Homo sapiens: one gene and its partner. The protein of the gene in region 1 interacts with the protein of each later gene in a pairwise test. Each region holds a gene or a part of one and is shown on either strand. Other genes may lie near its edges. The genes, in order: CAP1 and PLA2G4A.

Region 1 (16,826 bases):
CAGAAAGCACCTACCTTTGGGGCTCCACTACATGGGACTACCTCATTTCTGTGTACTTTTGGTGTGCATTATTGGGTTTTTACCTGCTCAGTGCAGAATGTTCATAAAATAGCTTTCTTCAATGCCAGAAATCTTCAGTCCCTTCTGTTTTTAACATCATACTAAAGAGATCAAGAAACTTACAAAGTCACCGCCTTCTGTAGGAATGAGGACATTCATCTCGGAAGATTTGGCACTGACTATTTCACAATCCAGGGAATTCTTGCTCAGGTAAGCATGGCAGCCATCTGTTTTGTTGATGGATATGGTTGGCACTTTACCCATTACCTGCAGAGTAAACAAAGAGAACTGAGTCCCAGTGGTTGGGAAGGACAACAGTAAGTCGCAGGAAAAGGTTTCCTGTTTCACGTGACTCAGCAACTACATGAAAAGCTCACAGATGCGCAAGACACTGGATACTCGGGTGGGTTGGGATGGGTCCTGAAAAGAACTTGCTTGAAGAGCCAACCCTTCTTCTGCCACGTCCAAAGCAGCTCAGCTTACAGACTTTGTAGAATCAGATTCCCACCAAAGCAACATCTGTGGGTCTACCATGTCTCTTTGAATTAATTCCTCAGGGACAAAAAGAAGGAGCCAAAATATCGAGTTACCTGAACTTTGACATCCTTACTGTTGATTATCTCCACAATGCCCACCACGTCATCGAATACCAGGCCAAGTTTCTTACAGTTATCTAGGAGAAGAAAGGGAGTGTGTCAACGTGTAACTTTAAAGGAAAGTAATATACATTTAGGAATCTTTAAGGATAGGGTAGGTAAAATGGTATTAGCCTTCTCGGGCTCTGGGACGGGGCTTGCGTGGGACAGCGACAAAGACTCACCTACTGTAATGGAGTTAATTTTGCCCTTGATTTGCAATGTCGTGTTGACACACTTGTATATGTAAGCCACCTGTTTCAGCTCTGTGTCCTCAATCACCAGGTTGGAAACATTTTCCTGATTTTCCTGTTAGAGAGAGATCCCAGGATTCTCATCACAAAGCACACACCGAACAAAAAATAACCAGGCTATCCCAAACTTTTTGTTCTTGCAATTGAAGCCAGAACTCTGCCCTCATCTAGCTAAGCTCCATTTAACCTCCTGTTCCTACTCCTTTTCCCCGGGAGGCGGAGGTTGCGGTAAGCCGAAATCGCGCCACTGCACTCCAGCCTGGGCGACAAAGTGAAACTCCATCTCAAAAAAATAAAATAATAAAAATACCTGCCCCTGTCTAGGTATTTTTAACTCACCACTCTCCACTTCTTGCCCTCCAGTTCAAGTACAGCTGGCTCCTTCTTTGTGGCTCGTTTGGGGGATGGGCTGGTTTGGGGTTTAGGTGCAGAGAATGGTTTGGGGCCACTGCGTACTGGACCACTCTGAGCCTTCAGGGCAGGGTTCTTGTGAGTCTTCATGTCATCAGATACATGTTTCAGGGCTGTAAGAACAACAGCTACCTTGTTCCTGTCCTTCATACCAGACCTTTGAGCTGCTATCGTCATGTTAAACATCCTTAACAGAAAATTCAAAGCCAAAACCAGAGCCTTTGAGATGTTCTCTTGCAAGCAGTTTTGGAAAAGTACTTTTATCATTTCTCTTCTCCCCAAGATTAAATTATATGGTTCCATTAACAACAACATGGAATGTGTGTATATTGTGGGTGAGGATAAGGATATGTAAATCCTTATCCTCTATGTCTAGAAAGACATATCAAATGTATGTGCACAAATATATAATTTTTAAAGCAATAAAGAAAAATGAGTGGTAGTAAAGAAAATTTGGTAAAAGGAAAAGAAAAAAATACCCTCACTCCCCACAGCTAACCCTACTTCCCCCACCTCCTCAGTCAGTGTTGGCATTTGCAACTCTACAATATTGTTTTCTACATATATTTGGTTTTGTTGGTTATAATCATACAGATTGTTAACAAATTTAGTTCAACTATTGACACTTAAAAACTTTCTCATGTTAACCTGTAGTTTAATATCTTTCTAGGCCAGGCGCTGTGGCTCATGCCTGTAATCCCACACTCTGGGAGGCCAAGGCAGGCGGATCACCTGAAGTTAGGAGTTCAAAACCAGCCTGGCTACCATGGTGTATTTTTAGTCTCTACTAAAAGTACAAAAAAATTAGCCGGGTGTGGTGGCAGGTGCTGTAGTCCCAGCTATTTAGGAGGCTGAGGCAGGAGAACTGCTTGAACCTGGGAGGCAGAGATTGCAGTGAGCCAAGATCACGCCACTGCACTCCAGCCTGAGCAACAAAGTGAGACTCCCATCTCAAAAAAAATAAAATAAAATAAAAAATAAAAGTAAAAATATATTTCTTTTATGTTTTAAGGGAAAAATAATTCATCATCTCCCACAGCAGGCTGACACACGCCTCGCTTTGAACATGGCCAGATCTATGTTAACTGTATAACAAATACTGAATGGCCTTTTTATCTCCACCATTCCTTGTGGTTGTAATTTACATACTAGATTTTTTTTTTCTTAAACATTACATGGTTCACTGTAGAAAAACATGTAATGGTGGCACAACATTTCATCAAGAGGCCGGGCGTGGTGGCTCACACCTGTAATCCCAGCACTTTGGGAGGCCGAGGTGGGCAGATCACCTGAGGTCAGGAGTTTGAGACCAGGCTGACCAACATGGAGAAACCCCATCTCTACTAAAAATACAAAAAAAAAAAATTAGCCAGGCATGGTGACGCATGGCTGTAATCCCAGGTACTCGGGAGGCTGAGGCAGGAGAATTGCTTGAACCTGGGAGGTGGAGGTTGCGGTGAGCCGAGATCGCGCCATTGCACTCCAGGCTGGGAAACGAGCAAAACTCCGTCTCAAAAAAAATAAAAAAATAAAAAACATTTCATCAAGAGGACATGTGGTAGTTAGCCATTTCTCTTACAGTTGGATTTAGGTTGTTACACCATTTTTAGCTACTATGATCATAGATTCCTAGAAGTGGCTGGACAACTCAGACTTCCACCAGCTGTGTTAAGGGTATCTACTTTATACCAACATTAGGTCACTCTCATGCAAATTTTCCATGTAACCAGTATGCATCTTCTGAGGAAGTTAACTCCCTAACACAATGCCTTCCCAGAGGCCATGTGGTGCCACGGAAAAAGCTCTGGGGAAAACCGCCAGCTCTGTGCCTTGGCACAAGAGGGTCCTCTATATATGCTACCTAATATTAAGTCACTTTCCCATGGGGCAGATGGCTTCCTCCAACTGTGATCATCATTTTCAATTTCCATTTAAGCCAGCTTTGCCGTCCCTTAAAGGAACAGGACACACCAAACGAGTCTCCACCACACAAGCCAGGGTTGTAGTTTACAGACGGTTCTGGTTGGTGGGGTCTGGCCCACACAACTTGTTGTACCTACTGTTCGTGTCCAAGTGCTCACTCACCATGTGTAATGCTCTCCCCCTGATTAATCTGCGCGAACAGTGATGAGCGGGAAGCAGACTCATATGAGCATGAAATGGTAGAGACTGGGGGAGGAGGGGGGCATGGTGGAGGGGGAGGAGGACATGATCCGGCAGAGGGTCCAGATGGCAGTCCGCTCAGTTCTTTTGCCACAGGCCCCTGGAACAATAAGTGCAGGTAACATCATCATCCTCTCTGCTCCCCTCTGTACCATTCCCAGTAGTGCCCTACATGGGCCAGTGCACATGGGGTCCCCACCACAGCCTTTGAGGCAATGATTAATGTGTCCTACCCATACCCAACTTGGCTTTATGCCTTCTCACCCTTTCCCAAGGATCCAGCTCTCAGTTCTATTTCTTGACCATCACATTTTGCCTTTGAACTCACCTGATTCCAGCTCTAAAAACTATTTCCACAAATCTACTTGACATCTTCCTTAGTGTGTTACCAGTACCTCTGATTCAACAGATTCAAAACTGATTTCATCATTTCCTGCCGCTCCTCTCCCTGTACAATCATCCCCTTGTCCCTATTTCAGTGAAAGATGTTACTATCCAAGACTGACTATTCAATCTTCTTTGAGGATTCCAACTTCTTCGACCTTATCAAATCTCTATTATCTTGGTGCTATCTCCTGCAAATGTTTTTCTACTATCCCCCAAACACCATGACCACTTTCATAATCTGAGCATGAGTCCTTATCCCTAACCTATACACTGAGACTCTTTTAAAGACAAATTGAATCATTATCACTCCCTTGCTCAAATACCTCATCCCAAAGTCTCAGCCTACCTTCCTTTCCAGCCTTTTCTCCTAAAATTCTGATCATTTCCCCTTATTGAAGCCAGAGATGACCAATCTCTACATTTACTCTGCATGTATTTTGTTTAAGCTGTGCCTTTTGTAGTATCCCACTTCTCACTGCCCTATACTACTTTCAAGTCTCACAGAAGAGTATATACCTTCAAAGTACAATCTCTTCTAGTGAGAAGCACTCTTCTCTTCCTCATACTCTAGTCTGTATCTTTATTATAGCATTTGGCTTGGTGATTTGTATTGGGGTTTTGCATTCTTATTTTTAAGCTCCTTAAAGGCTGGGATAGTGTAACTCATTTGTGTGTGTCTCCTGCTCCAGCACCAATCACTGTCCCTAACATATTTATTGAAATTGAATACCACTGAATATTCCTTCTCCTCTGATCCTTGCTTCCTCTACTCTTTTTACCCTTTCTTTCTCCTCCTTTTCTTCCTCCCTTCCACTGAAAAAACTAGCATTCCCTCACAGACTTTGGTAGTGCTGAAGTCTAAGAAACCTGTGGACCCCATGCTGGAGAGAGAAAGTGGGAGGGAGGGAGGGAGGGAGGAAGGATTCACTAACCGTTTTGCTCCAGGCCAGTCCGGTGGTATGGAACTCCTTAATGTAAGCCTGCAGCTCTGTCCATATACTTAAATAAGCTTTGACCCAGTCTACATGCTTCTTATCCCTGGGAGGATTAAAGAAGAACTTGTCACAGGTGATCCGGGTACATAACAGTGGTGACTCCAGAACCCTTCTTTCCTATGGGCTCACATTCTCCTACCCGTGGTGTTTCTTAGGCTCCGCTCAATGGCAGCTTTTCTATCATCACCAGCTTCTATGTATATACAACCTAGTCTATTACCCTAATCAGACCAAACTCCACTAAGATAGAGACTCTGGATTCTATCTCTATCTCTCATAGCAATGTTTCTCAAACTGTTTTAAGTACCAAAACTTTTTTTTTTCTTTTGACCACTTGCTGCTTATTGAAACTTTTTTCAAAGTAGACCTTAAACACAATCTAATATGTAAAACTGATAAAAGCAGACATTCTGTGCATAAAACCATGGTAGAGAGGAGAGCTCTTAAGTATCACTGTGGAACTCTAAAGACTAAGAAACTTAACTGCCTTATGAGACAATGCCTTATGTCAAAATATGCCCACCCTGACCAAAAGCAAACTTAAAAACTTTCCCTTAGGGGGAAACAATCAGCCTTAAATTATAGAAATAGCATTGTGCCTACGGTTCAAGTCCCCTCTCTTCTTATGTATTAACTGGGAAGGTTATTTAGCCTAAGACCTAGTTTCCTCAACTGTAAAGTGATGGGATAATGGTGGGATATATCAAAACACTGTCATGCTTAATTCCATGTTGCTAGAAGGATAAGGAAGTGCCTGTTGTTCTGGGACACATTTCACTCACAGGAAGGTGTAGTTTTCCTTAAAAAGAGTAGTTAATAAATGTTTGTTGATTGATGAAGGATGGAAGAAAGGAAAGGCTTGTGTAGATATGCAACTTAATAAATTTTGCCTGCAATCATTCCAGCTCAAAACCAGCAATGGAGAAGTCAGAACTGGTAGACGTATGTGGTTAGACATGCAATGACTGCCCTACGTAATACCTGCATTGGCTAGGCAGCCTTACTCTCACTTTAACTGACTTCATGAAAAATTTCTATTAAGTCCTATTGAACCCTTTGCCATTGGGCCAGTAACAAATTCTCAACAAAGGAACAAAATCTTATATAAAGGGCATTAGTCCATGTTACTGCCAGCAAAACTTCCTAAACCCAGAAGGGTAAGGATCAGAAGACTAAAAGGGCCTCTACCAAAAAAGGAGAGAAAGCAGAAGTGGAAGCAGAAGTATTTCCTGCTTGCAAATGCAGCTGTGAGACAATATCTGTAAAGCTCTCCAGAAAGCAGCCCTGAGATAAAACCAGCACAGTGGCTAAGGGCAGCCCTCAGTAACTCCAAAGTGCTACTCCAGCAAGTAACCAAATGGGTTTATCCTTTACCCCTTGAGAAAAAGCTGAACTTGGCTGGGCACAGTGGCTCACACCTGTAATCCCAGCACTTTGGGGAGACCAAGGCAGGAGAATCATTAGAGACCAGCCTGGGAAACAGTGAGACCTCATCTCTACGAAAAAATTAGAAAATTAGCCAGGCATGGTGGAGCGTGCCTGAAGTCCCAGCTACTTGGAGGACTGAGGTGGGAGGATTGTTTGAGCTGGGAGGTTGAGGCTGCAATGAGCTGTGATTGTGCCACTGTACTTCAGCCTGGGTGACAACGCAAGACACTGTCTCAGAAAAGAAAAAAAGAGAGAAAAGGCTGAACTTACACATCTTTGTACTCTTTGAGGACTCGGTTTGTATAAAACATGGCGGCATCATTCATTTCTTTCACATAAGGGCCAGGCTTGGGAGCCTAGAGAGAGACAAGCTGTCAGTGACTCAGGACCTCTCCAACTATATTGCCTTCCCTCTTAAAATCTATACCCACCCCCAGCCCTGGAATCTGCGCTGCTCACCATAGCCACCCAGCCCAGGGCCTGGATACTTTCGCTGACAGCTGACAGGTGATTAAACAACTTGCTGCCTCGGTTCTTCTCCCGAAAGGTTATCACTTCTTTGATCTGCTCTGAGATGGGTGCCAACAAATCGGAAAGCTTATTCTAGGAAAAGATACAAGAAAAGATTCAGGTTAACATCTTTCCACAAAGGTGTCTATGCCTTCTGATCCTGAAGGCAAGAATTCTCTATGGACTCTAGTGAGCACCCAAATAAACTGCATGAGTCCTGTCCTGATTCCTAAGGCTAAAATACTGCTCATCATCTCACTCTCCTCGTAGAGTTCCAACTCCTCAGGCTGCACCTGATGGTTCTTCATGATCAGGACCCATACTTCAGCTATACCACAGAACCTCCATTTCAGCCACCTGTCTCTTTTTTGTTCCACTCAGAGGACATACACTCAGGACATCATTCCTGTGCCTTACTCATGATGTTCTCTTTTTTTCCCATGAATCCAAATTTTCCTCATGCTTCATGAGGGCCCTCCAACCCAGCCACACCAGCCTCCTACAGCATTTGTTGTCAGCATAACCAATCTTGGCATTTTATCACTCACCAATACAAACTATTAATGGACCCATGTGAATATGTTTTACTTTCTCATTAATTCTTCAAAGACGAGCTCTTTTATCATCATGAAAGCCCCCAATGCATTGCCAGCCATATAGTAGCTGCTGTAAAGAACTGATGAATCAAATGCAATTAGGGGGCTTAGTCTGGGCATGGTGACCCACGCCTGTAATCCCAGCACTTTGGGAGGCCAAGGCAGGAGAACTGCTTGAGACCAGGAGTTCAAGACAGACTGAACAACACAGCACAACTTTGTCTCTACAAATAATAAAAAGAATTAGGGCCAGGCATGGTGGCTCACGCCTGTAATCCCAGCACTTTGGGAGGCCAAGGTGGGCAGATCGCTTGAGTCCAGGAGTTTAAGATCAGCCTGGGCAACATGGGGAAACCCCATCTCTATAAAAATACAAAAATCAGCTGGGCATGGTGGCGCATGCCTGTAGTCCCAGCTATTCAGGAGGCTGAGGTGGGAGAATCACTTGAGCCTGGGAGGTGGAGGTTTCAGTGAGCCGAGATCCTGCCACTGCACTCCAGCCTGGGCGACAGAGAGAAACTCCATCTCAGAAATAAATAAATAAATAAGTAAGTAAATAAGCAAGCCAGGCATGGTGGTGCACACTGTAGTCAAGGCTACTCAGGAGGCTGAGGTGGGAGGATCATTACACCTGGGAGGTCAAGGCTTCAGTGAGCTGTGATTGCACCACTACCCTCCAGTCTGGGTGACAAAACAACACCCTGTCTCAAAAAAAAAATTTTTTTTTAAACATAAATAAAATAAAAAACAATTAGGGGCTTAGCATTCAAGTAGGCACCTTGGCAAAATGGATGAATTTTGTTTGTGTTTGCACCCTTCCTCCAAAGCTCCATTTCCTGAACATCTCAATTCTCAGATCTTAACCATTCAGGACAGATTAAGAATTAAAATCTAATTCTACATATTAGAATTAGATGGCATCTATACACACACACACACACACACACACAATGTTTTTTGAGAGAAGGTCTTGCTCTGTCGCCCAGGCTGGAGTGCAGTGGTGTGTTCATGGCTCACTGCATCCTCAAACTTTCAGGCCCAAATCTTCCTCCCATTTCAGCCTCTCAAGTAGCTGGGACTATACGCATGCACCACCTTGCCTGGCTATTTTTATTTATTTTATTTTTTTAATTTTTAATAGAGACGAGGTCTTGCTATGTTGCCCAGGCTGGTCTCAAACTCCTGGCCTCAAGTGATCCTCCTGCCTCAGCCTCCCAAAGTGCTGGGATTACAGGAATGAGCCAGCACACTTAACCAGAATCTAATATATTTGACATTATCTTGCACTATTTTTATATTATCTAGGCATGCTGAGGGTCAAGGGTTTTAATACAGCATTTAGGACAACTTGCTTTATTATTCCTCTGTAACTAGGAAAACCAAATGCAAAAGAAGGAAACCTATATTCTTTGACTCCAAGAGAAATCTAAATTTTCTCTAATTCAACTTTTCACATCTTGCACCATAAAATTTTGAGGTGGGAGTAAAATTAAAGAGAGAGTCTCCCAACCAGTGAAGGATGAGGAGAGAAGCAATACTGTAGGAGTTTTAAGATCTCCACAGGAGCACTACTAAAGCCCATCCACAGTGAAGCAAGAGAATCATCTTTAAAGGGCTTTGGAGACACTATGATGAATGTGGACTCAGCAAAGAGGCAGGCAAGCAAAGTCCCAGGGATAACCACAGTCCTATGCAAAATGACAGAGAAAAAGCCAGTAGAGACCATTAAGTACCCAATAGTACCTTCCCATTAAGGCACTTGAAGTATGGCTCTACCTCTGGGACTTGGTATGAACATATATTATCAAAAGCCTAGTAGGTCTATTTTAAAATGTTATAATAGCTTGACATAAATCTCTCAACTCGTCCTGAGCATCAAACCAAAATGAAACCAGCTAGTAGTGAACTTACTTCTGCTGGCTGTTGACACTGAGAAGCTGTAACCAACAGAGCTCGCTCCAACTTCAAACCTGTGTGGACCATCTCCGCCTGCCAGAAAGAAGAATCAGCTATTGATGACACATTATAACTAGAGAAGTCTTGATAAGAATAACCTGAAACCTCTACTTCCATGTACTCTGATAGCAACCCAGGCACTTCATGTTATCCTCCTCATGTATTCCAGATTCCAGGGACTGAGAGCAGAATTACATACACTACTGTTCCTATTGGAACTCATCAGGGATATATATCCAGAGTTGGAAGTGAAGTTAATTGGATAATCACCTAGCTTACATGAAGTCATGTTAGCATCTTACACATGCATTGTGATACCGTGCACTGAAAAATCCTTCCTATTTCACATCAGCAAAATAAAACAAACAGCAACCAAAAAAACACCTTTCTTTTCTCAAAAATTGGAGACAGGAGTAAAGGCAAAGGCCTAAATTTCTGCTGAAAATTCTCAAGGTATTTACTCCTTTAGATTAAAGCTATCTCTCAAATGCCAGATACCATGACCCATTAATAAATAATTAAATCAATTTAGTGAGCTTAATGGAACAAAAGTATGAGTGCAGTGCACCAACTTCAAGTTATTTCCAAATAAAAAGTTAAAAAAAAAAAAAGTACAGCAGAAGTAGTATAAATATCATCTTGTGAAACTTTTATCTCAGTTACGAATATGTTCTTTCTTTCTAAGGGTCATTCGCAGTCAAAAGAATTTAAGAAACATGAGACTGTAAGCACTATTAAAATACAAAAATTCAAAGAAAGCAATCTATTTTTTCTGGATTTGCATTTTTAAAATACAAATGATAAATGTTTTAAAGTTTTTTCAAATGTTACAGAACTGTATTAAGTAAAAATGCAAGCCTCCACACCCTTATTAAAGTCCCAGTCCCACTCTCTAGAGCTAAAACCATTGGCAACAGATGGTATTTGAGAGGCTCAAAATAGATTTTCCAAAAGCCAAGCAACCAGTCTTCGAGAAAGGTTTAGGTGAAGAAGTTCCCAAGCATGGTTACTGTTTATAATTCGGTGAGCTAGCAGGAAGGTTTTTGGGTCCCAAAAATAGAGGTAGAATGTATATGTGAGTGTGGGGTGGGGGTGGGGGGTGGTGGTGATGACGTAGGAGGCATAAAGGAAGGTGGGAGGAAAGGCACCTGTCATTGCCTACTTCATATTCTTGCTGTGGGTTAAGTGTGAAAATAACCCACATTAGCATAACTAATAACTATCAAGCATAGTTTTATAAATGCTAAGTCATGATAATGACTCCTTTAAATAAGCCACTGTAGGTTTGATTATGTAATATGTTGGGATCAAACTGGTGCATATTCTTCACTACAAAGATGAACAGAACCATATTTTATGTACCAAGCAAGCTTTCTGTATAAATACGTGATAAAAGCAAGGGGCCTAGAAAAAAATGAGGAATCGTTTCTGTGGCTAGACTGAACTCCTCAGTACAGGCAAAAGAGAAAGAACATGTGTAATGCCCCAAACCAAGAGGAACTTCTCAAGGAGCTCTTAAACCAAGGATGAGGACCTTGGCTGACTGAAGAAAGCTGTTAGTCCTTAAAAGAAGGGGAAAAAGGCAAAACATCCTTACATGTTTCTGCACGTCTCCCCCAATCTCTTTACTGATCTTCAAGTACTCTGCCACAGGACCAGCAAGCAGCGAGTCAAATGCCTGCACATATGGAGCTGCTCCTGCTAAAGACAAACACACCACAAAGAATCAGCCATGCATCAGAAGGAGGCTTCTTTAAAACGTGCTTCTACATGAAAGTGGGGAGGCAAGGTAATACAGTCAACAGGATACAGAACAGGAGTAAGGAAACCTGGGTTCCAGGTCCAGTATCACCACTAACTGGTTGTGTGACCCTGACTAAATTCCTTTTCCTCTCTGAGCTTAATTTTCTTTATCTATAAAATGAAAATAAACAAAATGATCCTCCAAGGTTTTTTTTAGTGCTAACATTCTATGTTCCAACTGGTGCATGTGCAAAATGTCCAATTTGCCAATTGTTTGGAGAGAGGAATTTTATTATCACTTGTCATTTGACTTACATTGGAGTCATTCTGCTAAAGAAAGAGCAGGAAATATTGCACAAGCAGGAAGTTCTTGTGTTAAAATAACTTAACCACAGGCCTCCCTGTACAAGTCATTTCCTCTCTTATCTGTTCACAGCAATACAAATTACAAAAGGTAAACTTTCTAGATTAAGTTTTGGGAAGTTAGCGCCAAAGGAGAGAATAATAGAAAATTTTCAGGCCAAGACGCTCAAAGAAAGCATTCTGCTGGGCTGTGGACTGCTTACCTTTTGAAGGACTGTCTGCATACCCACGGTGCATGTCAGAGGTATGAGATACTGCCTCCAGGCGGCCCACTGCCCTCTCCAATCTTTCTACCAGATTTTGCATGTCAGCCATAATGGACCACCTGCTGAAACAGATCAAATGTCATTTGTTATTTAAATATTAAATAGCACCTACAGAGAAAAAAACAGAAAATTCCTGGTCATCCCCAGGTGGATGAAGAGGATGCCAATTCTCAGGAACAGAATAATTTAATAAAATTAGATATCATCTGCAAAATGGAACAATACAAAAATATCAGATAAAAAAGTAGCATATTTACAAAATCAAAAGACCTCATTAAGCAAGAGAACTGCTCAGGAAAAGGTGTTCACTAAAGTAAATGCTTACTCATTCAAATACTCAATATTTACTATGATACTGTGTGTAGAAAGTTAGAATTTGCAAAGGATAGTCACATACATTATCTCAGTTTGAGCCTCCCGACAACTATTCAGGAATAGAAGGATGATTACTACACGCTTAGAGATAGAAAACTTAGTTTCAGTGAAGCTAAATGACTTGTCTAGTCACACGGCCAGTGAATAGAGAAGCCAGTACTCCATCATATCCTTATCTGATCCTTCTGGTTCTAAGTTCAGTGTGTTTTTTTCCTACAACATCCTGCTGCCTGCATGTGAAATATCCCAAACCAAGATGAATAGGATGTTTACTCTTCCCTCAATAATTTTTTTTTTTTCAGACAAAGTCTTACAATGTCACCCAGGCTGGAGTGCAGTGGCAGGATCTCAGCTCACTGCAAGCTCCACCCTGTTGGGTTCAAGGGATTCTCCTGCCTCCCAAGTAGCTAGGGTTATAGGTGTGCGCCACCATGCCCAGCTAATTTTTTGTAGTTTTAGTAGCGACAGGGTTTCACTGTGTTGGCTAGGATGGTCTTGAACTCTTGACCTCAAGTAATCCACCCGCCTTGGCCTCCCAAAGTGCTAGGATTACAGGCGTGAGCCACTGTGCCCGGCCTGCCCTCAGTAATTTATAGTCTAATGGGGAGACTTAACATATGCACTAACAACTATGAAACAAATAGAAAAAAATGTTAAGGTGACATAAGAAAGTTGCTGATAGAGAGGCATGAGATTTCAAAGAGGGGAGTAATATATCAGCTGGAAGGATCAGATAAGGATATGATGGAGAAGCTGCCATTTGAGCCAGCCTTCAAATGAAGATGAGAAAGATCTGGACATGCAGTAGGGAAGGACACTAGACACATCCAAAAGAATTTGTTATAGATCTTTCACAAGTACTATCTTATCTGAAATAGCCTAATTCAATGTCTAATATCCCAAAGAAAGTAAGCTCCAACAGAGAAAGGACCTTATATAGCTTGTTCCTTACTGTATACTCTACCATCTAGACTACTACCTGGCAGGTAGTAGATGTTCAATAAATATTTATGAAGTTATAAACCTCACAAATAGCATTCCAAAACTCCAGAGGGATAAGGGTGCTAAAAGTTGCCCATAAGTCACACATAAGTGTAAAATATGATCAATGCACCTCTACATAAAGTATTTGAGACCCTAAGTGATCTCATAAAAACCAGTCAGTGAAATTTCAATCCAAGCTTTGACTTGGAAAGATTCCATTTCACAAAAGCGTCAATTCAGGCAACTGAATTCAGTTCAGGTAACTGAAGCTGAATGAACTCAACTCCCTTGAAGCTGCCTAAAATGACAACAGCAATTATGATTCCCCCAAAGATGACAGCATGCCAGAATTATCTCAATTTAACACATTGTCCTCCCTGTGGAAGAGATAAGCAGCTCACAAGATAAAGTAAGGAAGACAATATAGTCTCTGTCCATTCTCTGTGTACAGGCTCTGGTCTCTGTGGGCCCAATCACTTGTCAGAGAGTGTTGTTTAAAAGAGAAGCAAAGAAAAAAAATGAGAATGAGAACCAAACAAACCTTTCCATTCCTTGGCCTGCAGCAGCAGCAGAAGCCTCCAGGTCTATGTCCTACTCTCAAATAGAGCAGACCATAAGCAGTCAACATACTTTCCCTAATGTTATGACACTATCAACTGATATCTGAATTCCTGCCCTGTTCCATTATGCATACTGATCAAGAGACAGACTCACATATATATACAATCCACCACACTGTAAGTCCAGGGGAAAAGGCAAGGAACGCAATAAACTCCTAAGCTACCTTCCATGAACAGATACCACTCAGTTCTGTTATTAAAACATGTTCCTTCATACATGGATGTTTCAGGTTGAGACCACTGTTAACATGGAGACACAGTACATGTATTGCTAGAGGCTGCCAGAGTTTGTGAACATTTACCAATCTTAAATGCTTAATAATAGAGCTTCATGGGACTTTGGCTCCCTTTTTCCATATTTCATTTGTATTTATAGGCTTTCACTGCTAAACAAGCTAAAGTTCCGCTGTCTGACTTAAGCAGAATGAAAAAGGACAATACAGCTACCATTTATAGCTAATCTCATTCTACCATTAACCAAATACAAAAGAACAGAAACTGTTTTTTTTGCTCTTGGTGGGAGTAAGATGAGATTTGAGATGTTATGGAAAATAATGTCCAGAATTTAAGTATGACATTGTATGTGTGTGTAGAGAATGAGATTCAGTTGTGTGAAAGACACACCTTTTCTTATTCTCTATACACACGTACATTCTTCCGGTGGTCATGTACACTCCTAAAGCCTCTGACTACCCTTGTTGTAGTAACACCCAGCCTATTTGCGAGGTGGTACCACCATAACCACCTATAGACTAAAGACTACCAGAGCAGCATATCCATCTAGCTCAGGCCATTCATCTGGGATTAAATTTTAGATTCAGGCCAAGTACTGTGGCTCACAACTACAATCCCAGCACTCTGGAATGCCAAGATGGGAGGAAGTGTTTGAGCTCAGGAGTCCACGACCAGCCTGGACAACATGGCAAAATTCCATCTCTACAGAAAATAAAAAAATTAGCCGGGCATGATGGTACACACCTGTAGTCCCAGCTACCCAGGAGGCTGAGGTGTGAGGATTACCTGAGCCCAGGAGGTCGAGGATGCAATGAGTAGTGATTGTACCATGCACTCCAGCCTGGGTGACAGAGTGAGACCCTGTCTCCAAAAAAAAAAAAATCCAGCTTTCACCTAGACATCGCTACCTGGATGTCCCAAAGGCAACCTGAAATGTCCAAAAGCAGAAATCATATTCCCTAACATTGCTCCAGCACTGCTATCAATCACCTGATTGATCAAGTCAGTAACTGGAAACTGTTGGGCAGTATTATATAGTGGATAAGAGTGTTCTTTAGAGAAATCAGAGAGATTGGAGGTTTGAATAACAATATGCAGTGGCTTTGTGACTATAAGCAGTTATCAAACTTTCTGAGACTCAATTTCCTTATCTTTATAATGAAGACAATAATAGCACAAAAATCCAAAGGGCTTCAGTGAGAATAAATGAAGGAATCCATGTAGAAGTGCTTGGCACAGTCCTGGAAAATAGTAAGGATTCCATAAACTCCCCCACAACATCTTATCAGTCATCAAAATCCATAGGCTCTATTTAGTGTATCTCATGAATAGATGCCTCTTGCCTCCATCCTGACTGATAAGAGTTAGGATACTGGCTGGGCACAGTGGCTCACTCCTCTAATCCCAGCACTTTGGGAGGCCAAGACAGGAGGGTTGCTTGAGGTCAGGAGTTCAAGACTAGCCGGGGCAACATAGGGAGACCTTGTCTCTACAAAAATAATTTAAAATTTTTCCAAGCATGGTGGTGTACAGCTGTGGTCCCAGCTACCTGGGAGACTGAGGTGGGAGGATGGCTTAGGCCCAGAAGGTAGAGGCTTCAGTAAGCCATGAGTACCACTGCACTCCAGCCTGGGCAACAAAGCAAGATCCTGTCTCAAAAAAAAAGGATATCAAGACTTCACCAAGATTACTGCAATGACTTCTTGGCTAGTCTCCCCTAGTTACAGTAATAAACTTTGTTCATCCATTCTCCATATTATAGTCAGAGTGATCTATCTCAACACTTCCCAGAGTACTGAATGGTATTAAAGAAATATTTATAATTATATTTGCATTTAAGATATGATATTAGAGTTGCATTTGACACATACCCCAGAGCGTTCAGGGTAAAGTCCAAACAAGGGTTTCTCTCATCTAGTCCTGCTTAATCTTCTACCACTCCTGTTTTATCTCTTGCTACACCTTTCCTTAGCACACTACAGCAACCCGGGACTACTTGCGTTTTCCAGAAAAAGCCATGCTTTCTCTCACTTCTGAGCCTTTATAATGCTATCCACTCTGCTTAGATGTTTTCCCTTTCCCATCTGCCCCTCTAGAACTCCTATTGTCATTTAAGTCTCAGCTAAGTTATCACCTCCTGGGGAAGTATTTCTAGTATGTGCTACCACAACACTGTGCACTTATCTGTGTCACAACACTGCACACACTGGTTTAAAATCATTTATTTGGCCGGGCATGGTGGCTCACGCCTGTAATCCCAGCACTTTGGGAGGGCAACACAGGCAATCACTTGAGGCCAGGAGTTTGAGATCAGCCTGGCCAACATGGCAAAACCCCGTCTCTACTAAATCCCATCTCTACTAAACATACAAAAATTACCTGGGCATGGTGGCGCATGCTATGATCTCAGCTACTACAGTGGCTGAAGCACAAGAATGGCTTGAACCTGGGAAGTGGAGGTTGCAGTGAGCCGAGATAGTACCACTGCACTCCAGCCTGGGTGACAGAGCAAGATTCTGTCTCAAGACATTAGTAATAAAAAAATAAAATAATTTATTTAATAGCCTTCAGAGTCTAAGAGTTTATGGCCATAATCCCCTGAATGCATCTGATCTCCTCTAACAGTCAACAGGCAACTAGCCACCCTAAGGCAAGGACCATGTCTTGCCACTGTAATTCCACTACTATAAACATAGGAGGCATTAAAAACACTGTACATTGGCTCACGCCTGTAATCCTAGCACTTTGGGAGGCCGAGACGGGTGGATTGCCTGAGCTCAGGAGTTCGAGACCAGCTGGGAAGCACAGTGAAACCTCGTCTCTACTTAGCCAGGCGTGGTGGTATG
Region 2 (16,826 bases), about 150 Mb from region 1:
ATAGTAAAATAAAAATCATGGATACAATCAATCAATACAGTCAATTAATTATCCACTCCTCAGTAACTTTTGACAAAATAATATGCCTAGTGCTTTTAGGTAGTGCAAATTGTTTTACTTGTTGGTTATCTTTTCATTAATTGGGTAATATGATCTACAGTCCTCCCTTGGTACTCATGGGGGATTGGTTCCAGGCCCCCCTGTGGATACCAAATTCAGTGGCTGCTCAAGCCCCACATACAAAATGGCACAGTGTTTGCAGGTAACCTACACACATTCTTATGTATACTTTAAATCATCTCTAGGTTATTTACAATGCCTAATACAGTGTAAATGCTAGGTAAATAGTTGTTATATTGTTAGGGAATAATTACAAGGAACAAAAGTCTGTACATGTTTAGTACAGATCAAACAGTACATGTCAACAACGTTACATTTTCTGGAATTTTTAAAAAATATTTTTGATCTGCAGTTGATAGAATTTGCTGAACTCATGGGTATATAGAGCCAACTGTATGTTTGCCATTCAAAGTGCTGTTGTAATTTTTATAATTCAGCACCTAAAAAGTTCTAGTGTATATTTGTAGTGGTTGATGAACCAATGCCTCATTTTGTTAAAATCTCAGGAGTGAACACTTGTTTCTTCTCAAGCTTTGCTTCTTGGATACTATAAAAGTGCACAACACTACTCGGGAGGCTGGGGCAGGAGAATGGCATGAACTCGGGAGACAGAGGAGCTTCCAGTGAGCCGAGATCATGCCACTGCACTCCAGCCGGGGCCATAGAGCGAGACTCCGTCTCAAAAAAAAAAAAAAAAAAGGGCACAACAGCATACTTTTGGGGGGGCCTCTGTCAGTGTTAGTCTGCAGCACAATAGCATTTCTGACTGTAGCTGGTGGGCTTCATTCTATTTTTAGGAAAATTATCTCAGTGACTTCAGACACCCCATGAGCTTAAAAAACCATCATGAGTGGTGTGTAATTGGCACATATATATCCAGAATCCTTTTGTAATTTTCACTTTTCTCTCAACTGCCTCTCAGACAAAAATTTTGAATAGTTTACAAAAATTAGCACACATGGGATCCATTCATTCAAATGTTTATTAAAATATTGGCTAAAATGTTTGTCATGCTTATGGTTCAGAACGCACTTATCACATTTGCTATTTTATTCCATGTTTCCTACAACCGGGGAGTAGGTATTTTTAGCTCTGTTCAACAGAAGAAAAACGAAAACCTCATAAAGATTAAATAATTTGCACATTGCTGCTTAGAACGTAATTAGCAGTGCTGAAATTGGTTTCAAAAATCCTTTGTTCTTTTTATTTTACCATACTAACTTCTGATGTGTACATAGTGATTACCGTCTATATAGATTGCAGCAGTCTGCCGGGCGCTAAGGATGAATTCCTCTTTCCTCACCACAATATATTGTCCCTACCCTATAAGACCTTATAGTCTGTTTGGAAAATTTACAATAATTATTAAAGAAGTTAAGGCACAAGAGAGTACAGAACTGTTACTATACACTGTCATTTTGACCAAGTTATATAATCTACGTTAGACCCAGTTTTCTCATCTGTTAAGTGAAGATGAGACTTCTCACAATGTTTTGCCAAAAAATGAGACAAAGTATGTAAACAATGGCAGGCCCTAATAATAAGTTTCCAGTACATTTTAACAATTTAGAATGTTCTGTGAAAGCTGTATAAGAAAAGTCAGAGGTCTAGATCTTAAAGATTAATAGGATTTGAATATGAAAGGCACATTTAATTATTGGATTGTGGAAGGGGGCATGTAGCAGGGTCAGGGATAACTCAGGTGTGCTCAATGGCAACAAGGAACCACACATCTTGGGCTATAATGGGGTTCATAGTAGAGAGTTGAGACTTTATTACATAGAAAAGTAAGCGCCATAATGAAATTGCTTCCCCCCAGCCATAGCTATTATCTTGTGGAGCTTTGAAATTTTTGGAATTGTTTGATCTATAACACTTGCATGCTAGTCAGATTTTTGCATGGCCAAATAAATCATCCTTCACCCAGAAAGAATTACATGGTCAAAAGAACACTACATTCTAATTTAAAAGCCTTGTCTTACAATACTTCTAAGCTGAATACCTCAGGCTAGTCATGTAATCTCTGATTCTTATTTTCCTCCTTATTTTAAAAAATATATTAACCCTAAGATTTATCTTCCAGAGCTATTAAGGCAATAATATGAAATATGCATAAGATGAGACTGAAAACTATAAAGAGGCATACAAATATAAAAGTTTGTTTTTATTGTCATGATTGTTCTGGACTTTTCACGGTGGTTATATTTTATTCTGAATTTTTAGTCAATAGCCATTTTCCAAGAAAACTTAACTAAAATAATTAAAGAATAAATAATATTTGGGTGAGTGGATATTCTGGGTTCTTTTAGACTGAAAAAATGCTGTTTTATATTCAGTTAGTAGTCTTTGGACCTGGATGTGTCTTCTTTTGACATCTGCTTCACTGCAGTACTGCTACTGAGATGAGTGGTGCATCATTAACCTTCATTGTTAAGCTTCTGTCATAAGGCGGGTTGAGCTGTGTCTTCCAACAGATTTAGACAAAATCATTAAACATTAATTATATGAATCTTGTACCCAGATAAGACATCTTAAGGTACATGTCTTGAGTGTTCAAGTAGCTTTACTTGAGTTACTGGGAAAAAAAGAATAGAGACACGTCTGTAATTTATTCTTCCAATATATGCTTAGATTGAAAGTGGCTGTGTAGAAGAAAAAGTTGAGATAGTCTCTGAATTATATTTTTAAAAGTCAAATAATCAAATTAGCTTACAGAAGCTTTATTAACAATTTTACTTCAACAATACCGGATAATATTTTCCCTTCCTCTTGGAATAATTTTAAACACACCTTTCATTTAGAAATTTCTTGGAAATTTTCAACAAATAAACATTGGTGTTTAAACTGTTAGAAATTCCTGACTCCTCCACTACATCACATTGCTGAAAGGACTTAAAACGTTCATTTAAAAATTTCCACTGGTGAATAAACTGCATTTATGGATTACAACTTATGGTTATGAACTTAGCATCATGCTAAATTTTTTGACAGACACTTTAGAAGTACAAATATAGTATTTTTCCTCAAGAAAGTTATAATCCTATTGAAAGAGACAAAAATAAAGCATGGAAAAATTCCTATAATATACCTAGACCTGACATAAGTGTGTAGACCTGACATAAGGGTGAGATGTCATAGAGATTTAGTATAGTTGTAAGAAAGGGTGATGAAACTTGGATTTAAGTCGAATGTAGAAGGATCTATCAAGTACGGGTAAAAAGATACCTTTGTGTGGAAACAATATGAGAAAATGCTCAGAAGGGAAGCCAGAGTTATGTTTTGGGCATCACTATTAAAAAAAACAACTAGTCTAGGACTTATGCACACATTGGTGAAGAAAAGGTGTTGTATTTGGAGGCACCAATAGTCCCAAGTTATGGAATGATTTTAATTCCAGACAGAAATATTTTTATTTGATTTTGATGATAATGGAAATAGTTAATGCTTTTGTGCAGGGCAATAAAATTATTTATGTAGTGTTTTTGAAAAAGTCACTTTGGTGACCAATAAAAACAGAATGGAAAGGAATGAAACTGGAAGCAGAGATATCACTGTGCTTTTGTGATAAGGCCCTGGAACTAGGGACATACTGATAAGAAAAGAATAGATGGATATGAGAGGCCTAAAGGTTATCGGTGTGATGCAATGATGGATTTGATAGAGTGATAGCATGGTTTACTGAAATAGGTAAGCTGGCCCGGGAAGAAGGGTGATGAGTTCTTATCTAGGTAAGTATAGTGGGAGGAGATGACAGAATATCTGAGTGTAAGGGCCCCAAAGGAAGTTGAAAGTACATGGAAGCGCAGGAGAGAGGTTGGAGTCAAAAGGTAGAGTCACCAGCAGGAGAGAATTAGTTGAAAACTAACACCGTGAGTTCTTCAGTGAGGGGTGCAGAGCTCATTTTAGCTTTTGAGAATGCCTAAGTTACTATGTGCCCAGGCCATGGCGCTAATCAAGAAGAGATCGCTAGAAAAGCAGGAACCAGGAAGTTGTTATGCCTCAGTTCCCATGATAGGGTTGTGAAATTGAGAGATAGGAAATTACTTGTATGAATACAGGAATTTTCCTAACAGCCTCTGATTCATTGCTAGTTATGTCTCACAAATTCCACGTAAATCGTTGTAAATCACACCACTTTCTGATGAAGAATATATGTACCATTTGGCTTTGACATATAATGAATTACAATGTTATCAAAATTGTGATTTCATCACTTCCTTCATGAAAGGAAGGTGTTGTGACCTACCATTGAACAAACAATAAATATAGATCCACAATTCCTTTTCCAAACCTTTGGTGACATGTGTTTTAGAATTCAAAATGTTTGGATTTTGGAGATATAAAGATACTCATATTGTGTATTACCTAATACCCCATTGGGTTCTTATAATCAGTGATATTTCTCCAATAGGATATATAAATATCCACATTGAGTGGGATAAATGAATTATAAGAGCCCCCACTAACATTCAAGCCTGATTTCTCACTAAATGAATTCAGATTAGATTTTACAAACAAATGAGTAACAAAGAAGCTTATGAATTTTTGAATTGTTTGGATTTTGTATTGTTGGATAAGATATTACAGACATATTATAATTTCAGAAAGAGAAAAGCTAGAAAAAAAAATGAAGTGGGTTAGAGAATTATGAGTTGGGCAGGGGTGGATGATGTTGGGATTTTAAAATGGACCATCAGCAAAGACCCTAAAATAAAGATTAAGTAGGAGCAAGCATTATAACTGCAGAAGGGAATAGCAAGTGTAAGGTGCTGAAGTGGGAATGAACTTGACTTCTTTGAGGAACAGCAAGAAGATCTGTGCCGTGTGGCTGAAGTGAAGTGGGATACGCAAGACAAAATGTGATAGAACATTGTTAGGAGGGATGTGGTCACATCACACAGGGAGTGGGATCTAGGCCAGGACGGAAACTTGTCGGCCCTGTTTTTATTTTCAGTGTAATGGGAAGCTTTCAGATGACACTGGTGTGCTGTGATTTATATTTTTAAAGATTTATTCTGGCTATGGGATATCAAAAAGATAATAAGTGAACAGAGTAGAAGCATTTTAGGAGGTTATTGTGGAGGTCCAGGAGAGAGAATACAGCAATTTGTATCAGTACGATCACAGTGGACAAATGGATAAGTGACCAGGTTCTAAACATACCTCGTGATAGAGCCTACAGCACTTGATTTTTCCTGTGTAAGCTATAAGGGAAAAGAGAACCATCAAGGGTAATCCTGAAGTGAGTAGTGGCATGAATAATATAGTACCATTTACCAACAAGAAGAAGAATGAAGGAGTTGCAAATGTAGAAAATGGGAATCAGAAACCAGGAGTTCTTGCTGAAGACATCAAGATGCAGATGATAATTAGACATAGTCGTAGCCATGGGAATACATGAAACATAAAGTGGCTACTATTTATTGAGCAATTAAAATGTGCTATGTCCTCTTCTAAGCTCCTTACATTTCTTAACTCAGTGGATCTTCAAAACAATCCTACACACTATCTACTTGTGATATGTGATTTTATTCACATTTTATAGATTAGGGACCTAAGACAGAGAGAATAATACCCAAGTCAGTAAGCACAGCTCATAAGCAGCAAAATAGGATTTGATCCCAGACAGTCCAGCTCCAGAGCCCCCGCGCTTAGACAGTATACATCTCTGGCACTATTACCATGTTTTTCTAAGGCATTCAACCTAAAAACTTTGTATTGCAATCTTGTGGAGTTAGAATAGACAGTTAGTGAGCAAAATTGAAGTGAAGGTGAAGAAAAGATAAATGTTAGAAAACATTTTATTTCATTTTAATAAACTGTTTGAATTGCTTAGAAGAGTTTAATTTATTCTGTATGCTCCATGAAATTTATATCTAGTTAGCAGTTTTCAGTTTCCTGTTCTGTAGAATGAAAACTGGCTTCAAAAAGACATCTGAGTTTTTAAATAGAAAAGTGCATCTAATTTCTGCAAATTAGAAGGGATCTTTTTGTATCGTCTTGTCTTATTCACCTCTAAGCGTTTTTCCCCCAACTTCTACACAATGTCATATACATAATGGGCATTTGGCTAATGTTTTCATTTTGATATTTTAAATACATGAATGAGAATAAGCATAACATTATTAAAGTGATCATTAATTGTGCACACCATGCCATAGCATTTTCCTATTAATGGATTGCCTTGTTTTTAAAATACTTTCAGATTGGGTTGAATTTAGTCCATACGAAATTGGCATGGCTAAATATGGTACTTTTATGGCTCCCGACTTATTTGGAAGCAAATTTTTTATGGGAACAGTCGTTAAGAAGTATGAAGAAAACCCCTTGCATTTCTTAATGGGTAAGTGATCAAAATAAAAATATATCATTGACTTGCTTGACTATTTTGAAACCTGGGATATTTTAAGTTATTTTCTGTTTCTGTTTTATTTTAGGTGTCTGGGGCAGTGCCTTTTCCATATTGTTCAACAGAGTTTTGGGCGTTTCTGGTTCACAAAGCAGAGGCTCCACAATGGAGGAAGAATTAGGTATCCTAAAGATATGCTTACATTGATACAAATCTTGCTACATTGATAAAGTTTATTGACATATATAGAGAGAATATTAAATCTTTGTAAATATTTCAACTATTCTAAATTTATTAATAATTTGGTTGAATCAATCTAAATATTTCCTAAAAATAATATGTTACTTCTTAAGTATTATTTTGACACTGAGGTTATAAAACTCATAAAAATCATTGATTTCTAAGAGTAATTTTTAATAGAACACATCTCTATTCCTTTTTCGCATTATACTGCTAAACATACTATTTGTATTAGAAAGTCCTCTTTTTATCAAATAAGAATAGCTTTTTAAAGATTAGATTCACCAACAGCTAAATACAATGTAACACTGAAGCTTATGCTTGTCAGTTTATTTAACCCTTAAATATTAACTCACCAGAATTCTGTTAGCATCTTATATTAATCTATACCCAAAAGAAGGAAAAAAATCAAATCACCTCTAGTACACTTAAACTAATGATTTTCATTAAATCTAACCTATTGGCCTATAATAAATTACGAATATTTACAAAACCTGAGAAAGTAGACAATCTCAACTGGGGACCAGTGGTTTTCATTCATTATAGGAATACCATAGAAACATGTTTTCTTAAATTAATAAATTTGACTTAAAGCAAACAAAAAATTTATATTCAGTTTCTTCCAAAAGCCTTGCCACCTGTATTTTAATCAACATTAATTTTTGGGTTGACTGTTTTGACTGATAGCATAAAGAAATGGTGGCATGCTAAATCTGAATTTGGAGCCATAACAGCAGGGACCTGGGAGAAGTGCCTGATGGACTATCAACACAACTACCTACTATCTCTTCTCTATCTGGGAAGTAGCAAAGATCTATCTGAGAACAAAGAAGTCGACAGAATAACATTGATGACTTTTTAAATAATTAATTTATTTGAAGAATGCTTGCATACAAAAAGCTTCCTGCAGGAATTTTAAACAAGCTGTCCTTGGTTATCCCAGGCAATGTCAGTTGATTTAATTAAGTTTACATGCAAAAGAGAATACAATTGTAACATTAATTGGAACATTAAGTTGGCTTATAAGCAGTATTTCCACTGCTCCTACAATTGATTTTAGTTATTTGATAATTTATTTAATATTTGTATTTAGTGTGGTAAACTCCTGTAGTTCATAATATTTTCAAGAGTGTCATTTGTATTTTTGTTAGTTCTTAATGAATAATGGAAAAGTTATCTTATAATTTCATTGGAGCCAAAGATTTTAAAATAAAAATAAAAACAAACACACAAATAAGGCACCTTGTGTTTGTTTATTTTCTGTCCTCTGATCATCACCCAGTTAATGAGCAAACAAGGTAGGTGGCACCCATGAGCCTGCTGTGACATTTACCACGGGGCACATTCTCCTAAGAGTAACTGCAAGGCAATGTGTATAATGATAAAATGATCTTACTTGATTTCTTTTAATGAACATTATATCCCAGATGAATGTCCTGTTCCCAACTCTTTGTGGAAATAACAAACCCTTTCTCTAAGTTATGTGAAGATTTTAGAAAAAAAAAAAAAAGAAGAAGAAAGAGAAGATCACATATTGAGGCTTGCTTCCTGTGCCCCTCTGTTGAATAATCCAGATAACCCAGGGTTTGCTGTTTTTTCTTCTTAAGGCAGGAAGAGAATAGGACTGAAATAACAGATCTGAATGTGGGTGAGACAGTGGCTAAAAGCCAAGGAAAAGGAGGAGGTTTATACTAGGTAGTTTTGAGAAGGTTCTTTGTTGAGAAGTTTCTTTAGAGGCCGGCAGTCTGGCAGCTTATTGACTCGGACTGTGTGTCAGACTGAGGGGGAATATCGTGTATGTGTGATCCGCCAGTCAGCAGGAAGCATGTTACCTCAGATTAAGTAAGGATTTCCAGAAATGAAACCAGAGAGGTGACCAAGAGGACTCTGAGGACTCCTGGTGACTACTCTATCCTTTGGCTGACTGAAGTCTATCTCCTAAAGGAGTGTTCAGAGATGATTTTTACTTTTTTGTTTTCTTCCTTCTGAAGAAAGACTTTAAGGTAAATTGGGCTACAATCAGGTAACTCTGAATGAAACTACTTACTCTCTAAGGAGTTTTGAATGAATGTGAAAAATTTACACTTTTGAGAGATGGAGTTGTACATTATACTAGGATGGAAAATATGTAAATTCAGAATAGTTAGCTATTCATATCGTGAATTCTTCCTTACAAATAAGACAGTATTTTGGTGAACTATTTTCTTAAACTATCATATGTGACAGAAAGAAAGAAAGGAAAGAAAGAAAGAAGAAAGAAAGAAGAAAAAGAAGGAAAAAGAAAGAAAGAGAAAGAAGGAAGGAAGGAAGGAAAGAAGAAAGAAAGAGAAAGAAAGAAAGAGAAAGAAAGAAAAGAAAGAAAGAAAGAAAAAAGAAAAAGAAAGAAGAAAGAAAGAAAGGCAATAGAAAGAAAGAAAATACTTAAGGAAGGAAAAGAAAATAAATGTAGGACTAGAAACACACCTAATGTATATGGCACCTGGGATAGATCATTTCTTAACATCTCCCACACCTCTGTGTAACAAAATTACTATTGATGATAGCCATGAAATGAAACTAATAATATTAGCTTGTGAACATTTAATCAAATTTTTTATGTATAATCATGCCAGTAAAAACTTAAAAAATAAATGTCAATCCATTGCCTTAAGCATTTATTAACCCTTCCATTACTAACTCTTGCTCATTCACGCACATTTTACTTGAAAAAAGACAACTAGTCTGGGCACTGTGGCTCACACCAGTAATCCCAGTTCTTTGGGAGGCCAAGGAAGGATGATCACTTGAGTCCAGGAGTTTGAGACCAGCCTAGGCAATAGAGTGAGACTTCATTTCTACCAAAAAAAAAAAAAAAAAATTAAAAAAATTAGCCAAGCATGATGGTCCATGCCTATAATCCCAGCTACTCAGGAGGCTAAGGTGGAACGGTTGCTTGAGCCCAGAGGCAGAGGTTGAAATGAGCAGAGATCATGCCACTGCAGGCCAGCCTGGGTAACCATTTAAAAAACATAAAGAAGAAAGATAACTAGTTATTATGCTAGAATTTACTGCTGTCTTTGTTTTAAGGATTTCTGGTTGTTATTTTAGTTTTTATAACTGCTCTCTTAATATGTTCTGCAGGAAGCACAAATTCTTGACACCAAAAGGTGAATTTCAACTGACAATTTTCAATATTATTGAAAGTCAAAAGATAATTTATGTTAGTATCTTTCATTCATTTTAAGAAAACTGTTTGGTAGCTCACCTGTAGATTTTGGTTTTATCCTTTATCTTCATAAACACCACTTAAAAATATCTAATAAAGAAAAAGGCATATTTTTTGGTATAACAAGGAGCTTCCTATAATCAAGTTGTTATTTTTGTCAGAATTATGATAAACATAAAATTATCCTCTTTAAGTCATGAATTAATAAATATAAACTAATTTTTCATGTCCCAGGAAATTTTGTTTCCAGTGAGAAATCTGAGAACATGATTAAATCTAATAAATCTAGAATTATTAAATGGATTTAAATTTATACTAGTAGAGCTAGTAGATCTCACTCTGTGGTTTTGCTCAGATTACTTTTTTATATTAAAATTAATTGTTAATTTTGACACCTGAAATGCTTCAATTTTTTTGTTTTCTTTTCACAGAAAATATTACCACAAAGCATATTGTGAGTAATGATAGCTCGGACAGTGATGATGAATCACACGAACCCAAAGGTGAGTGAGCCGGAAACTTTTCTGGCCCAGATCCATGAGGAAAGGATATGAACACTCTGTCTGATTTTCTCACTCAAGATGCTGATGGTAATCTTCACTTCAGACACGGAAGTGATAAAATTGTAGCTTTCTGTTGAGAGAGAGGATTGCATGTTGCATGTCTAATAAAATAGGCAGCACATATAAATCCCTAATTTATTTTGTTTTAATACCTCAAAAATACTATAAGTTGAACAAATGAACAGATCCAAGATGGTAGAAATGCTGAATTCTATTTTAAGTCTGATTAGAGCACTAGGCTTCTCAGCATGGTTACTGTGATTTGGGAACATTTTTAGATGGCTTTAAAAATTAACATTTTGTCTTTCAGAATTTTGTTATTAAGTAACATGAAAAATTATATTCTCACTCCATTCCTGACCCTTATCCCACTGGCTACACCCTCCCTCTTGAGAAAGGATTAGTGATGAAGTGGGGTAAAAGTATCAAGAACTTGATACGTATATTATTTCATAGTATAAATGAGCCCTTTTACATTTTGACAAGGTAGTTTGCAGTTTGGTGTGGATTATGATAGTCAGTGATGGACTTGGGGCAGAGATAAGGTGAGGATCAGATTTGCAACAAATATGAAAGTCATATTTGTTGTAAATGTTTTGTGGTAAAATAGATTATTTTGACACAGTGTTTTGAGACAGCCATTTATAAAAATGTTCCCAATAGTTAAAAAAAAGCCAACAAACAAAAACAAAAACAACAACAACAAAAAACAAAACAAAGGGAAGGCTTTATAAGAACTGGATATATCTGTCCTATTACAGTTTGAATATGATCATCTAGATTTTAGAAGATATTAAATGCTTTCTGGTCCAAAACTTAATTAATTCCACTAGGCATGGAAGAGCCTGTTTTATCCTTGCTTAATTATTACTAAAATTAAAATTCTTTTTTCATAGCTGGGCTATTACTTCCTCAGAAGATGTGTTTGTGTAAATTAAAGAAAAGCTGCCTTCTCTGGAGAATGTAGCTGCACAGGGCCATGGCTTGGCTAGTGTATGTTGTCTTGCGAACATTAAAAAAGAGGATTCCTTCCCTGGGCAGCCAACGCTTTCATCTGGGCATGAGGCTTGGCTAGATGAGTGCAAGTTGGGTTCAGCCCTGATTTGCCCCCCTATCCTGCTGCGTTATGTAGCCCATGATCTGCCTAATCAAATAATGACCAGCAGCCCTGATCATTAAGCAGGAACCCCAAAAGAACCCTGTCCTGGAAGCAAGCAAGTCTTCATCCTGGCTCCTTCATTTTTAAAATTTAAAATTTATATATATTTTAGTTGTTTAAGTCCTTTTTGTTTTGAATTTCCTTTTAATGAAGGAAGCTAGCTATTGTAAAGGGGATAGCTATCACATGCCTAGCATCTTTAGAATTATTTGTGTATTGATTTAGGGACTACTGAGGAGACAGAATAATGGTTTCTCCATTATTAAGTATTTCTATAGATAGTCAGTACATTTGATAACCCCTACAGTACTAGCTGAGTCTTAAGGCTGAGAAGTTCAAGGACTGTTGAATATGGCTGCTTTGGTTTTAGGATCAGCCTTGCTTACAGCATGATATGTAGTATGTGGTTAAGGTTTTCTTTTCGGCTCTTAGTATTTATTTTTTCTCTTTTACATAGAGTTTTTAGAGCAGTTTTAGGCTCAAAGCAAAACTGAGCACAAAGTACAGAGTTCCCATATGTCCCCTGTCCACCTTCCACCACCCCTGCCTCTCCCACTATAAACATTCCACACCAGAGTGGTACATTTGTTACAAGTGATGAACTTAAATTGACATTATTATCAGTCAAAGTCCATAGTTTACAGTAGGACTCACTGTTAGTGTATATTCTATGGGTTTTGACAAATATGTAATGACATATATTCATCATTATACATGTCACACACACTAGTTTCACTGCTCTAAAAATCCTGTCTCCTGCCCCGTCCCCTCCTCCCCCAACCCCTAACAAGCACTAATCATTTTACTCTCTCCATAGTTTTGCCTTTTCCAGAATGTCATGTAGTCAGAATCAAACAATAATGTAGCCTTTTCAGATCTTTCACTTAGTAGTGTGCATTTAAAGTTCCTCTATGTTTTTTCTTGGCTTCATAGCTTATTTTTTTAGCACTGAATAATATTACATTGTCAGGTTGTGCCACAGTTTAGTTATTCATTCACCTGCTGAGGAAGGTGAACTTGGAAAACTTGAAGTTTGCTTCCAAGTTTTGGACATTATGAATAAAACTGCTAGAAAAATCTATGTACATGTTTTGGTGCAGACACAGATTTTTCAGTTTATTTGGGTAAATACCATGGAGCACAATTGCTGGATCATATGGTAAGAGTATATTTAGTTTTGTAAGAAACTGCCAAATGGTCTTCCAAAGTGGCTGTACCATTTTGCATTCCACTACCAGCCATGAATGAGAGTTCTTGTTGCTCCACATCTTTTAAACATTTGGTATTACCTGTGCTTTGGATATTGGTCATTCTAATAGGTATGTAGTAGTATCTTTTTATTGTTTTAATTTGCATTTCTCAAATGACATTTAACTTGAAGCATCTTCTCATATGCTTATCTGCTATCTGTATATCGTTTTGATGAGGTATCAGTTCAGGCCTTTGGCCCATTTTTGGATTGGGGTTATTTTCTTATTATTGAATTTAAAGTGTTCTTTGTATGTTTTATATTACATGTTTTAAATCAAATATGTCTGTTGCAAATAATTTCTTTCAATCTGTGGGTTATCCTTTTATTCTCTTGAGGCTCTTTCATGTTTAGTCATATGATTTTGAGCAAAGTTTTAGGCATTTTCAGCTTTAGTTTCTTCAGACCTATCCTGGAACCATTTACCTTCTCTCACAGAATTGTTGCAATCATTAATTTAGCAAATGCATACAAAAGGGCTCTAAGTTGTAAAGGGCGATGCAAATAGAAATGTACTATTACTGTTATGATTAATAAGCAATAAGTATCATTTATATGTTGACTGTTGGGTTTGTCCCACAAGTGATGCCATTATCAAAGGTATCCTGGTATGGAAGTGAGGGCTTATTGAATAAGAAGAAGAAAAGTAAGAAGCGACAGCCCCAAAATCTTTGGAAATAATTGCATATCCTATTTATATGCTGTGTAACTAGAGATAGAAATCGTTCACTTTAAAGCCTGAATTGTTCTAGTAAAAGACATATTTTGTCCTGTTTGGCATTAGAAAAGTGTAAGAGTAGAAAGTAGTGTATTTGTTTTTGGTGACTATATAGTCATCTGGACTGGTTACTGAATGAAAGATCTCTTCATTTACTCAGCTCAGTTAAACAAATACCTGTGAAGATAAGGATTATAAATCATGCTACTATAAAGACACATGCACATGTATGTTTATGGTGGCGCTATTCATAATAGCAAAGACTTGGAACCAACCCAAATGTCCATTGTGGTAGACAGGATTAAGAAAATGTGGCAAATATATACCATGGAATACTATATAGCCATAAAAAAGGATGGGTTCATGTCCTTTGCAGGAACATGCATGAAGCTGGAAACCATCATTCTCAGCAAACTATCACAAAGACAGAAAACCAAACACCACATATTCTCACTCATAGGTGGGAATTAAACAATAGAACACTTGGACACCGGGTGGGGAACATCACACACCAGGGCCTGTCAGGGTGTGGGGGGCTGGGGGAGGGATAGCATTAGGAGAAATACCTAATATAAATGATGAGTTGATGGGTGCAGCAAACCAACATGACACATGTATAGCTATGTATCAAACCTGCACATTGTGCACATGTACCCTATAATTTTAAGTGTAATAAAAATATATATTTATTATGGTTTTATGTATGTTTAGTTTACATTTATTGGAAATTATGAAGCTGACTATAGAATCTCTTTTTTCTCTTTATTTCAACACACACACACACAATCACGCACACATACACACACAGTTTTATAAATGTGTGACTATTTATATACAGGGTTCCTAGAAATCAGAAAAAAACGGGGTTTAGGCAGGTGAAGTTATACATTACCATAAATTATTCTTTGATTTTGATTATGAATAAATAAGATTGATGATTATGATGCTTCTGCTGCTGCTGCTACAACTGTTTCTGCTGCTAGCTAGTGTTTATTAAGAATTTAATACGAGCCAGGCATTTTTCTAAGAACATTACATAGATGCACAAACACAGTTAATTCTCACAACTTTAGGAGGTTTATCAGTGAGGAAATGGAGGAAGAGAAGGGGAAAGTAACTAGAAAATAGTGGAGAGAGGGTTGAGACCCAAGGATTCTGATTCTGGAGGCAGTGCTATAAATGACCATACAATATAATTTCCCAGGAGTAATGGTGTATGCATAGGTGGTAAGGAAAAAGTCATTTAAAACTGCTTCTTTGGGGTGATTGCTGAATTTTAAAATGTTTAGGCATTTGTTTAAATTAAAGGCTTTTAAATCCCCAAACTTTATAAGCAAGGATGAAATGACAGGTCATAAGATCAATAGGTCATAAGGGTGTTTATTTAGTAGCAAATATATGTTGAATCCTTTAGCTCTCTCTCCTCATTTTGCAGAAATCCTGAATGTTTGTTAAACAGGGTAAGATTTCTTAAGGTAACTTAAGAAATGTAGAGGATAGAATTAACCACTGGATTTTCTGTGTGTAAGTTATATGTGTGCATGCAAGTGCGTGCACTTGAAGCCAGAGAAAAGGAAGAAATCAATTCAGGAAAGAAGGGAAGGGGGAACATGAAAGAAATTTACCTGGAAATCTGAGCATAGATCAAGTGGCACTGTCGAGAATATACCCCTTACACGCACTGTAGGTAAAAGGAGAACTAAGAACAAATTAAGAACAAAAATGATTAACTGCAATATTAATTTAGGCAAATACACATGTTAAACCAAATATAGAGCTTTATTGTTAATTTTAACATTCAATTATCCAAAGAAGATCCCTTTTTTTTTTTTTTTTTTAAGACAGAGTCTTGCTCTGTCGTCAGGCTGGAGTGCAGTGATGCAATATCGGCTCACTGCAACCTCCGCCTCCCGGGTTCAAGCGATTCTCCTGCCTCAGCCTCCCGAGTAGCTGGGACTAGAGGTGCACGCCACCATGACCAGCTAATTTTTTTTTTTTTGTATTTTTAGTAGAGATGGTGTTTCACCTTGTTGGCCAGGATGGTCTCAATCTCTTGACCTCATGATCCGCCCGCCTTGGCCTCCCAAAGTGCTAGGATTACAGGCGTGAGCCACCGTGCCCAGCCCAAAGATCCCTTTTTAAACATGTATTTTGGAGTCTGTATGGTGACCTTTTATTTTTCCCTAGGCACTGAAAATGAAGATGCTGGAAGTGACTATCAAAGTGATAATCAAGCAAGTTGGATTCATCGTATGATAATGGCCTTGGTGAGTGATTCAGCTTTATTCAATACCAGAGAAGGACGTGCTGGGAAGGTACACAACTTCATGCTGGGCTTGAATCTCAATACATCTTATCCACTGTCTCCTTTGAGTGACTTTGCCACACAGGACTCCTTTGATGATGATGAACTGGATGCAGCTGTAGCAGGTAAGTGTACAAATATAATTAGTGGGAGCTAATGCAGGAGATCTTTATTCCTTCTCTGGAGAGAAGCATTTTAATTATTATTAACACTTACTCATTTATTATCAGTTATTACAACCTGCATTTAATGTGTGAAGGGCTTCAAATGACTAGGGTTTTTTTTTTGTTGTTGTTTGTTTGTTTGTATTTTTGAGACAGGGTCTCACCCAGTCACCCAGGCTGCAGTGCAGTGGCACAATCATGGCTCACCGCATCCTTAATTCCTGGGCTGCAGCAATCCTCCTGCCTCAGCTTCCTGAGTAGCTGGGACTACAGGTGCACACCACCATACCCAGCTAATTTTTGTAGTTTTTGTAGAGACAGGTTTTTGCCGTGTTGCCCAAGCTGGTCTCAGACTCCTGGGCTCAAGTGATCCTCCTACCTTAGCCTCCCAAAGTGCTGGGACTGCAGGTGTGAGTCACCGTACCTGGCCTGGATTTTTTTTTAAAGAAAAATTTACATTGGAGAGGAAATGGCCTAGACATGTCAGTATAGAAAATTTTCATTAATAATATTGAGGAGGACGGCCGGGGAGCAGTGGCTCACTCCTGTAATCCTAGCACTTTGGGAGGCCGAGACTGGTGGATTACCCAAGCTCAGGAGTTCGAGACCAGCCTGGACAACATGGTGAAACCCCGTCTCTACTAAGTAATCCCAGCTACTCAGGAGGCTGAAGCACAATAATCGCTTGAACCTGGGAGGCAGACATTGCAGTGAGCCAATATTGCACCACTGCACTCCAGCCTGGGCAACAAAG

The links.
Region 2: the proteins of CAP1 (region 1) and PLA2G4A interact in a two-hybrid assay, tested with the Homo sapiens proteins (one study listed by BioGRID and IntAct).

Annotation. Positions count from the first base shown.
Region 1 is NC_000001.11:40,054,337-40,071,162, reverse strand, and holds part of CAP1 (adenylyl cyclase-associated protein 1), read right to left. Parts: intron 11,830-16,826; exon of another isoform or gene 11,827-11,829; 5' UTR 11,817-11,826; coding exon 11,705-11,816; intron 11,097-11,704; coding exon 10,993-11,096; intron 9,429-10,992; coding exon 9,351-9,428; intron 6,937-9,350; coding exon 6,793-6,936; intron 6,690-6,792; coding exon 6,604-6,689; intron 4,949-6,603; coding exon 4,843-4,948; intron 3,624-4,842; coding exon 3,446-3,623; intron 1,474-3,445; coding exon 1,289-1,473; intron 1,005-1,288; coding exon 881-1,004; intron 734-880; coding exon 651-733; intron 328-650; coding exon 184-327; intron 1-183. UniProt on the Homo sapiens protein: Directly regulates filament dynamics and has been implicated in a number of complex developmental and morphological processes, including mRNA localization and the establishment of cell polarity.
Region 2 is NC_000001.11:186,940,312-186,957,137, forward strand, and holds part of PLA2G4A (cytosolic phospholipase A2), read left to right. Parts: intron 1-6,325; coding exon 6,326-6,463; intron 6,464-6,557; coding exon 6,558-6,650; intron 6,651-10,345; coding exon 10,346-10,417; intron 10,418-15,790; coding exon 15,791-16,033; intron 16,034-16,826. UniProt on the Homo sapiens protein: Has primarily calcium-dependent phospholipase and lysophospholipase activities, with a major role in membrane lipid remodeling and biosynthesis of lipid mediators of the inflammatory response.